2 linked regions of the Homo sapiens genome follow. The protein of the gene in region 1 purifies or fractionates together with the protein of each later gene. This does not show direct contact. Each region holds a gene or a part of one and is shown in the gene's direction. Other genes may lie near its edges.

Region 1 (3,824 bases):
AGCACACAATCAAGTTCTACTAATTCTTTTTTGGGAAAGACTTCAGGTCTATTGTGATTACGCTAAAAGGTAGAACTGCGTGTTATGATTGACTCATGAAGCATCAGAAATCCCCAAGATAGTTTTGAAAGGACTATACTTATTACCACCTAGAGATTTTAATCACTGTTAGTAGCATTATCCTTTAAAATAAAATTCATAAGTTTACTCTGTTATCAGACTACTCATTTCAATTTAATTCATCAGACAGATATTATGCTCTTACTATCTGGTACTATTTGGGCCTGGGAATACCAGAGCAAGTAAGTTCCTTGTTCTCAAGTTTGAGGTCAACATAGTTGTTTTAATATAATTTAATCTGTATAATAAAGAATGTTTTTTCTTTAAGAACATGTTCATATGTTATTCTGACATTTACTTTTCAGGTTCTTGTCACAATCTATGCTGATTATATTGCCCCTTTATTTGACAAATTCACACCTCTGCCTGAGGGAAAGCTTAAAGAAGAAATTGAAGTAATGGCAAAGAGTATTGACTTTCCTTTGACGAAGGTGTATGTTGTGGAAGGTAAGGCTACCTGGGGATAAGAAAGTTTTATCCAAGTGGTTTGTTTTATTTGATACTTTATTCTTAAAATTTTAATAAAAGAATTAATCAGTTTTTGTTTTTTTCTTTTTAAAATTTGTTATTTAAAGGCTAGGAGTTTACCTTTTGGCTTTTTAAGATTTACAGAAATTGATAACATAGGCCAGGGATAGAAACTGGTGGCTTGATACCAAATCCTGCTCTTGTCTGCAGCTATGTTTGTTTGGTTTTACAGTATTGTTTTAAATTTTTGGCCAAGGCTTTTTCACTCTCTGTTATGTTATCTTATATATTAGACTGATTTATTCACTTCTGTTATCTGCCTAGTTCTTTTAGGTAGTTAAGTTGGACTCTTGAATAGTCAAATTCTGTTTAGTATTAGTTTGGAGGCTCTTAAACAAAGCCAGTGTTATTGGCCTTGTCTCCTCCAAGAAAATATCCAGTGTTCTGGAGGACTCACCTGAAGATTGATTACCAAAGACTGCAGTACCACTGAGTACTGCAGATTTGTTATACTCTGCTTTTTTGATGATTACTTTTGAGATTTAAGTGGTCTCTTGACCGTTACTCAAATCTTGACTTCCCATTAACACCCAGTCTATTACTTTCTTTGAGACTTTGGTAGTTGACTATTAAAGTCTCAAAGAAGACTACGGAGATGTAGAGAGAAACTGTTGTAAGGTTCTATGACTTTCAGAATTTATAAAGTCCATATAAATGAATGTAATAGTTCTGTTCCTGCCACTTACCAGTTATAGGATCTTGGACAAGTGACTTCACCCTTCTGGGTTTCAGTTGTATTTCCTCTAAGCTATGGTTTCACAAATGTTTTTTGTAAAGGGCTAGATAGTAAATATTTTAGCTTTGCGGGCCACTTGTTCTCTGTTGCAACTATTCAGTGCTACTATTATAGCGCAAAAGCAGCCATAGACAATACTAAACAAATGAGTGTGGCTGTGTTCCAATAAAACTTTATGAAAATAAATGGCAGATTGGATTTGGCCTGTGAGCTACAGTTTGCTGATCCCTGCTCTAAAATAAAATATTACCAGTGAGAAGCAGCAGTGTTAGATGAAGGAATAGAAGCAGAAACAATCACAGGGTTAGAGGAGAACAGAGATGGTCACAACTGAAAAGAATGAATCAACAGCAACTGGAAGAACATAGAAATTTCAGACATCTGGCTGGGCGCTGTGGCTCACGCCTGTAATCCCAGCACTTTGGGAGGCCAAGGCAGGCGGATCACCTGAGGTCAGGCGTTCGAGACCAGCCTGGCCAACATGGTGAAACCCTGTCTTTACTAAAATACAAAAAATTAGCTGGGCGTGGTGGTGCGTGCCTGTAATCCCAGCTACTTGGGAGGCTGAGGCAGGAGAATCGCTTGAACCTGGAGGTGGAGGTTGTGGTGAGCCAAGATCAAGCCATTGCACTCTAGCCTGGGCAACAAGAGCCAAATTCTGTCTAAAAAAAAAAAAAAAAAAAAAATATATATATATATATATATATATATATATATGTCAGACATTTAGTGGCTCCTGAGGATATACAGCCCAACTAAAGGCACGATTGGAGTAGCTTAAAAGTCTGTGGAGAAATGGTAGAATAAGCCAGTTCATACTTACTTCTTTAGCCTCTGAAATAACTACTCTTTTTTTTTTAGGTAATATTAAACTAGAAATTTAATCATTAATCAGTACAACAGAATAGTCTCTAAGCTGCTTTTACTGAAGGAGCAACCTAAGTTGCTGATCCCTTAAGTTACAATCAGATAACGTGAAATAATAGTTAATGCTATGACAGTGGAGGTAGTCAATAGAATATGTGAAATATATCGGTGCTATTTTCTTTTTATCTTTTTTTTTCCCCCTACAACATCCAGAGTATGAGAGCTATTTTCATTTTAGATAAAATAGTCAGGGAAGGCTTTATGGAAGGTTATGACCTGAGCTGGGTGTTAATGGGAAGTCAAGATTTGAGTAGGTTGGGGGCAGCATTTCAGACGTCAGGCTTCAGGGTCAAAAGGCTTGGGTTTGAATCATAGCTCTACCACAGATTACCAGTGCTGGGCTTGGTGGCTCCAGCCTGTAATCCCATCTACTGGGGAGGCTGAGGTGGAAGGTCAGGAGTTCGAGACAAACTACTTGTGTGACTTTGCGCAACTTAGCTTTGCCAAACAGCAGTTTACTCACCTATAATGTATGTTTTAATTGTTGTTAACAACAGTAACAATTCTCAAAAATATTTTGAATGAATGAATGTTGTTGCTGACAATAACAACACACATTACATATTTGTAAATTGGTAGGGAGATTGTAGTGAAAAGCCAAGAATCTTGCTCTCAAAATATTATCAGATAGCAAGTGCTATGCAGCAAATTAAACTAGTTTGGTCTGATAAGTTGATACTGTAGATTGGTCATCAGATTGAGCTGAGACCTAAAGGGAGGAGCCGCCCATTTGACGTCAATGGGAAGATGTTCAAGGACCATGAAGAAGTCCAGTGTGGCTGCACCATAGCAGGAGAGTGTTAGGAGATGAAATCTGAGACATAGGCAAGAATCAGTCCACATAGGCCTTTGTAAGTCAGGGTAAGGAGTTTGGATTTTGAGTTCAGTGGGAAGAGCCATTGAAGGCTTAGACAGGAAAGTGACATGATCTGCTTTGTGTTTTTAAAATATCCTGGGCTACTGTATGGAGAATATGTTGTAGAGACAGGCAAAAGTCTAGGTAGGACATAATGGTAGCTTAGACTAGGATAATAGTAATTAATGGAGAGAAGTGGATACATTTGGGACAAGTTTTAGGGTAGAGTTGATTGAATTTTCTAATTGATTGCATTGGGAGAATAAGGGAAAGAGTGACATCAAAGATAATGGCCTAGACTTTTGACCTGAGCAGTTAGATATATGGTAGTTTCCTGAGATGGAAAAAAATAGGAGAAGAGTAGGTTTGTGGGGAATTAAGACTTCTAATGGCTATATTACATATTGAGGAACCTACTAAACATTGTATTAGAATTCTGCAAGCAATAGAAACCAACTGTGGCTGATTTAAGCAGAAAAACTGCTTATTGAAGCACTATTTGGACCAGGCGCAGTGGCTTATGCTTGTAATCTCAGCACTTGGGGAGGCCGAGGTGGGCGGATCACTTGAGGTCAGAAATTCGAGACAAGCCTGGCCAACATGGTGAAACCCTGTCTCTACTAAAAATACAAAAAAAAAAAAAAAAAAAAAAGCCGG
Region 2 (3,824 bases), on another chromosome or scaffold:
AGCTACAGGAAATGAAGTAACCGCAGCCATTTGGCAGTTTTGTTGCTGTTGTTTTTCTTATTGTTGTTGTTGCTTTTTTTTTTTTTTTTTTTTTTTTTTTTGAGACAGGTTCTTGCTTTGTTGCCCTGGCTGGAGTGCAGTGGCAGTGATAATAGTTCACTCCAGCCTTGAGCTCTTGGGCTCAAGTGCTCCTCCTGCCTCAGCTTCTTAAAGTGTTGGGATTACAGGCATGAGCCCCCGTGCTCAGCCTATTGTTGTTTTTGAATACTTTTTAAAATTGTGGTGAAATACATACAACATGAAATTTTCATTTTAACTATTATTTTGGTGTATAGTTCAGTGGTGTTAAGTACATTCTACTGTTGTGCAACCGTCACCACCATCCATTTCCAGAACTTTTTCATCTTTCTGAACTCAAGCTTTGCATCCATTAAACAATGATTTCTGTCTCCCCCTTTCCCCATCTCCTGGCAACTGTCACCATTCTATTTTCTATGAATTTGACTGTTATAGGTACCTCATATAAGTGGAATCATATAGTATTTGTTCAATTTGTAAGTAATTTACTTCATTTAACATAAAGTTTTCAAGGTTCATCTACATTGTAGCATGTGTCAGAACTTGTTTATTTTTTGAGGCTGAATAATATTCCATTGTTTTTATATGCCATGTTCTGTTTATTCATTCACCCATTGTTGGATATGTGGGTTGTTTTCACCCTTTTACTATTGTGAATAATGTTGCTGTGAACACTGGTGTACAAATATCTGAGTCCCTGCTTTAAATTCTTCTGCGTGTATACCCATGAGTGGAATTGCTGGATCATATGATAATTCTGTGTGTAACCTTTTGAGGAATCACCAGACTTTTCCACAGTGATTGCACCATTTTACATTCCTACCAACAGTACACAAAGGTGTCGGTTTCTCCACATCCTCGCCAATATGTGTTTTCTGTTTTTTTAATAGTAGCCATACTAATGGGTATGTAGTGGTATCTCTCATTGTGGTTTTTGATTTGCATTTCCTAATCTTAGTGATATTGAGCATCTATTCATGTGCATATTGTTTGTTTGTATATCTTCTTTGAAGAAATGTCTATTCAAATCCTTTGCTTGCTTTTTTTTTTTTTTTTTTTTAAATTTTTTCCAGACAGGTTCTTGCTCTGTTCCCCAGGCTGGAGTACAGAGGCATGATGATCATGGCTCACTGCAGCCTCAACTTCCCAGGCTCAAGTGATTCTCCTACCACAGCCTCCTAAGTAGCTGGGACTACAGGCACACACCACCGTGCCTGGCTAATTTTTAAATTTTTTGTAGAGATGAGGTCTCACAGTGTTACTCAGGCTAGTCTCGAACTCCTGGGCTCAGGCAATTTTCCTGACAGCCTCCCAAAGTGCTGTCATTTTTTGTTGTTGTTAGGAGTTTTAGGTGTTTTTTATATATTCTAGGTATTATTCCCTTTCAAATACATGATTTACAAATATTTCCTCCTTTTTGTGGGTAGTCTTTTCATTCTCTTGATAGCGTCCTTTGTTGCACAGTAGTTTTTAACTTTGATGAAGTACAGTTTAACTACTTTTTCTTTTATTGCCTGTGCTTTTGGTATCATGTCAAAGAAACCATTGCCAAATCCAGTGTCCTGAAGCTTTTCCCTATGTTTTCTTCTAAGAGTTTTATAGTTTGAGGTCTTTGATCTAGTTCAAGTTAATTTTTTTATATGGTTTAAAATAAGGATCCAGCTTCATTGTTTTGCATGTGGATATCTGGTTTTCCTAGTGCTATTTATTGAAAAGACTGTCCTTTCCCTATTGACTGATTTTGGCATCCTTGTCGAGGGTCATTTGACTAAGTATGTGAGGATTTATTTCTGGGCTCTCTATTCCATTCCATTAGTCTGTGTATCTGTCTTTATGCCAGTTCCACACTTTTTGATTTGCAGTAAGTTCTGAAATTTGACTCCCCCAGCTAATATTATTTTGGCTGGGCTCAGTGGCTCATGCCTGTAATCCTAGCTCTTTGGGAGGCCGATGGGGGTGGATCACTTGAGGCCAGGAGTTCGCGATCAGCCTGGCCAACATGGCAAAACCCCCCATCTCTACCAGAAAACTACAAAAATTAGCTGGCATGGTAGTACACACACCTGTAGTCCCAGCTACTCACAGCTACTCAAGAGGCTAAGGCAGGAGAATCGCTTGAACTCGGGAGGCGAAAGTTGCAGGAAGCCCAGATCACACCACTGCACTCCAGCCTGGGCAACAGAGCAAGGCTCTGTCTCAAAAAGAGAGATTCTTTTGATGTTAGATTCCATATGAATTTTTGGATAGATCTTTCTATTTCTGCAAAAATTGTCATTGGGATCTTAAGGGGACAACCACTTGTTTTTAACTGATTTTTCTGCATGGACCTCCTTGTGCCATAGCAGCACAGCTATTTGAGAGTTTAAGGCTCTATAAAATGTTTAATTAAGGCTTCTATAGGGTAGTATGCATTATAAAATCTGAAATGATCCAGCCTGGATTTAGATTATGCAAGTTTCTTTGCTTGTATCTTCTCTTTTGGTAAGAAAGAACATACCTAGAAAGTAGACAGCCTCCTTTAGGGAGGAAATAGTATTTGACATGGATATGTCTTGGGAATTGCGTTTCTTTTGCTAGGTAATCTAAGAATTTGTGTAGGCTTTTAGTATGGAGTAGTTTTAGGGTGACTGCTTTAAAACTTCAAAGCTATAGAAATGACCCTCTAAATTGAGAGAATAAAGTCACTTTTAAAGACTGTTAAGCCGTAATTCATGGTAGTATGTAAAAGTAAAATTTTATTTCATTTTAGCATGCCAATGAAGATGTGGAAAGAATGTTACTAGGAAACAAGTGTGATATGGACGACAAAAGAGTTGTACCTAAAGGAAAAGGAGAACAGGTAAAAATCTGAATTAAACTGATACTCTGCTCTGTCTTTGTAAAGGTAATGCTACTTTTGATTATTTTTATAGTAATAGTGATCGAACACACTAAGCTAATTACATAGTTTTTAAAATGCTTGTTGGAAATAATATTTTATCATTTGAGTGAATTTTTTTTCAGTGCATATTTAACATGTATGGGAGAATCAAATGTGCCCATAGTATTTTTAGCCTTATTTAAACTACAAAGAGAGAAAAATATAAGTCATTAATCCTCGGTTTTTAAACTTAGGACTTTAAGGAAATGTATCAATTAGTATGGTTCTAAAATGTGACAATCAGGAGCCTATGGTGAGCAGAAATTAGACCCTGAGGAGTCAGGTTGAGCTTCTCATAAGTTTGCCCCCAGTGTGAAGTATCTGACTTAGAATATCTGAAATAAACTTTTGGGGTAAGGAGATTACTTTTCTTTTGTTTGTTTTATGAAAGAGCTTGACTTGCTGAAATATTCTGTGTTATATATTCTAGTTGGGACCACTGCCTTCAGAATAAGATTAATATTTAAGCTGTTAAAGTCAGCAGTTGGCAACCCATGCTTGATAATTTTATGATGATATTTTGTTTCTGTTTTAGATTGCAAGGGAGCATGGTATTAGGTTTTTTGAGACTAGTGCAAAAGCAAATATAAACATCGAAAAGGCGTTCCTCACGTTAGCTGAAGATATCCTTCGAAAGGTAAGTTCCTGTTTTTATATCCTGCCAGGTACCTGAGTATCTCTGTTGAATATTTTGTCTATTCTGAAGTACTGGATTTACATACAGAATTTGAGTTTGGGTGGTATTGTTTCTGTAGGGCAGCAGTCCCCAGCCTTTTTGGCACCAAGGACTGGTTTCATGGAAGATAATTTTTCCATGGACCGTACT

The links.
Region 2: the proteins of ZMPSTE24 (region 1) and RAB10 fractionate together in Homo sapiens (co-fractionation; one large-scale study listed by BioGRID). This does not show direct contact.

The regions. Positions count from the first base shown.
Region 1 is NC_000001.11:40,271,469-40,275,292, forward strand, and holds part of ZMPSTE24 (CAAX prenyl protease 1 homolog), read left to right. Parts: intron 1-425; coding exon 426-567; intron 568-3,824. UniProt on the Homo sapiens protein: Transmembrane metalloprotease whose catalytic activity is critical for processing lamin A/LMNA on the inner nuclear membrane and clearing clogged translocons on the endoplasmic reticulum.
Region 2 is NC_000002.12:26,124,317-26,128,140, forward strand, and holds part of RAB10 (ras-related protein Rab-10), read left to right. Parts: intron 1-2,827; coding exon 2,828-2,917; intron 2,918-3,533; coding exon 3,534-3,635; intron 3,636-3,824. UniProt on the Homo sapiens protein: The small GTPases Rab are key regulators of intracellular membrane trafficking, from the formation of transport vesicles to their fusion with membranes.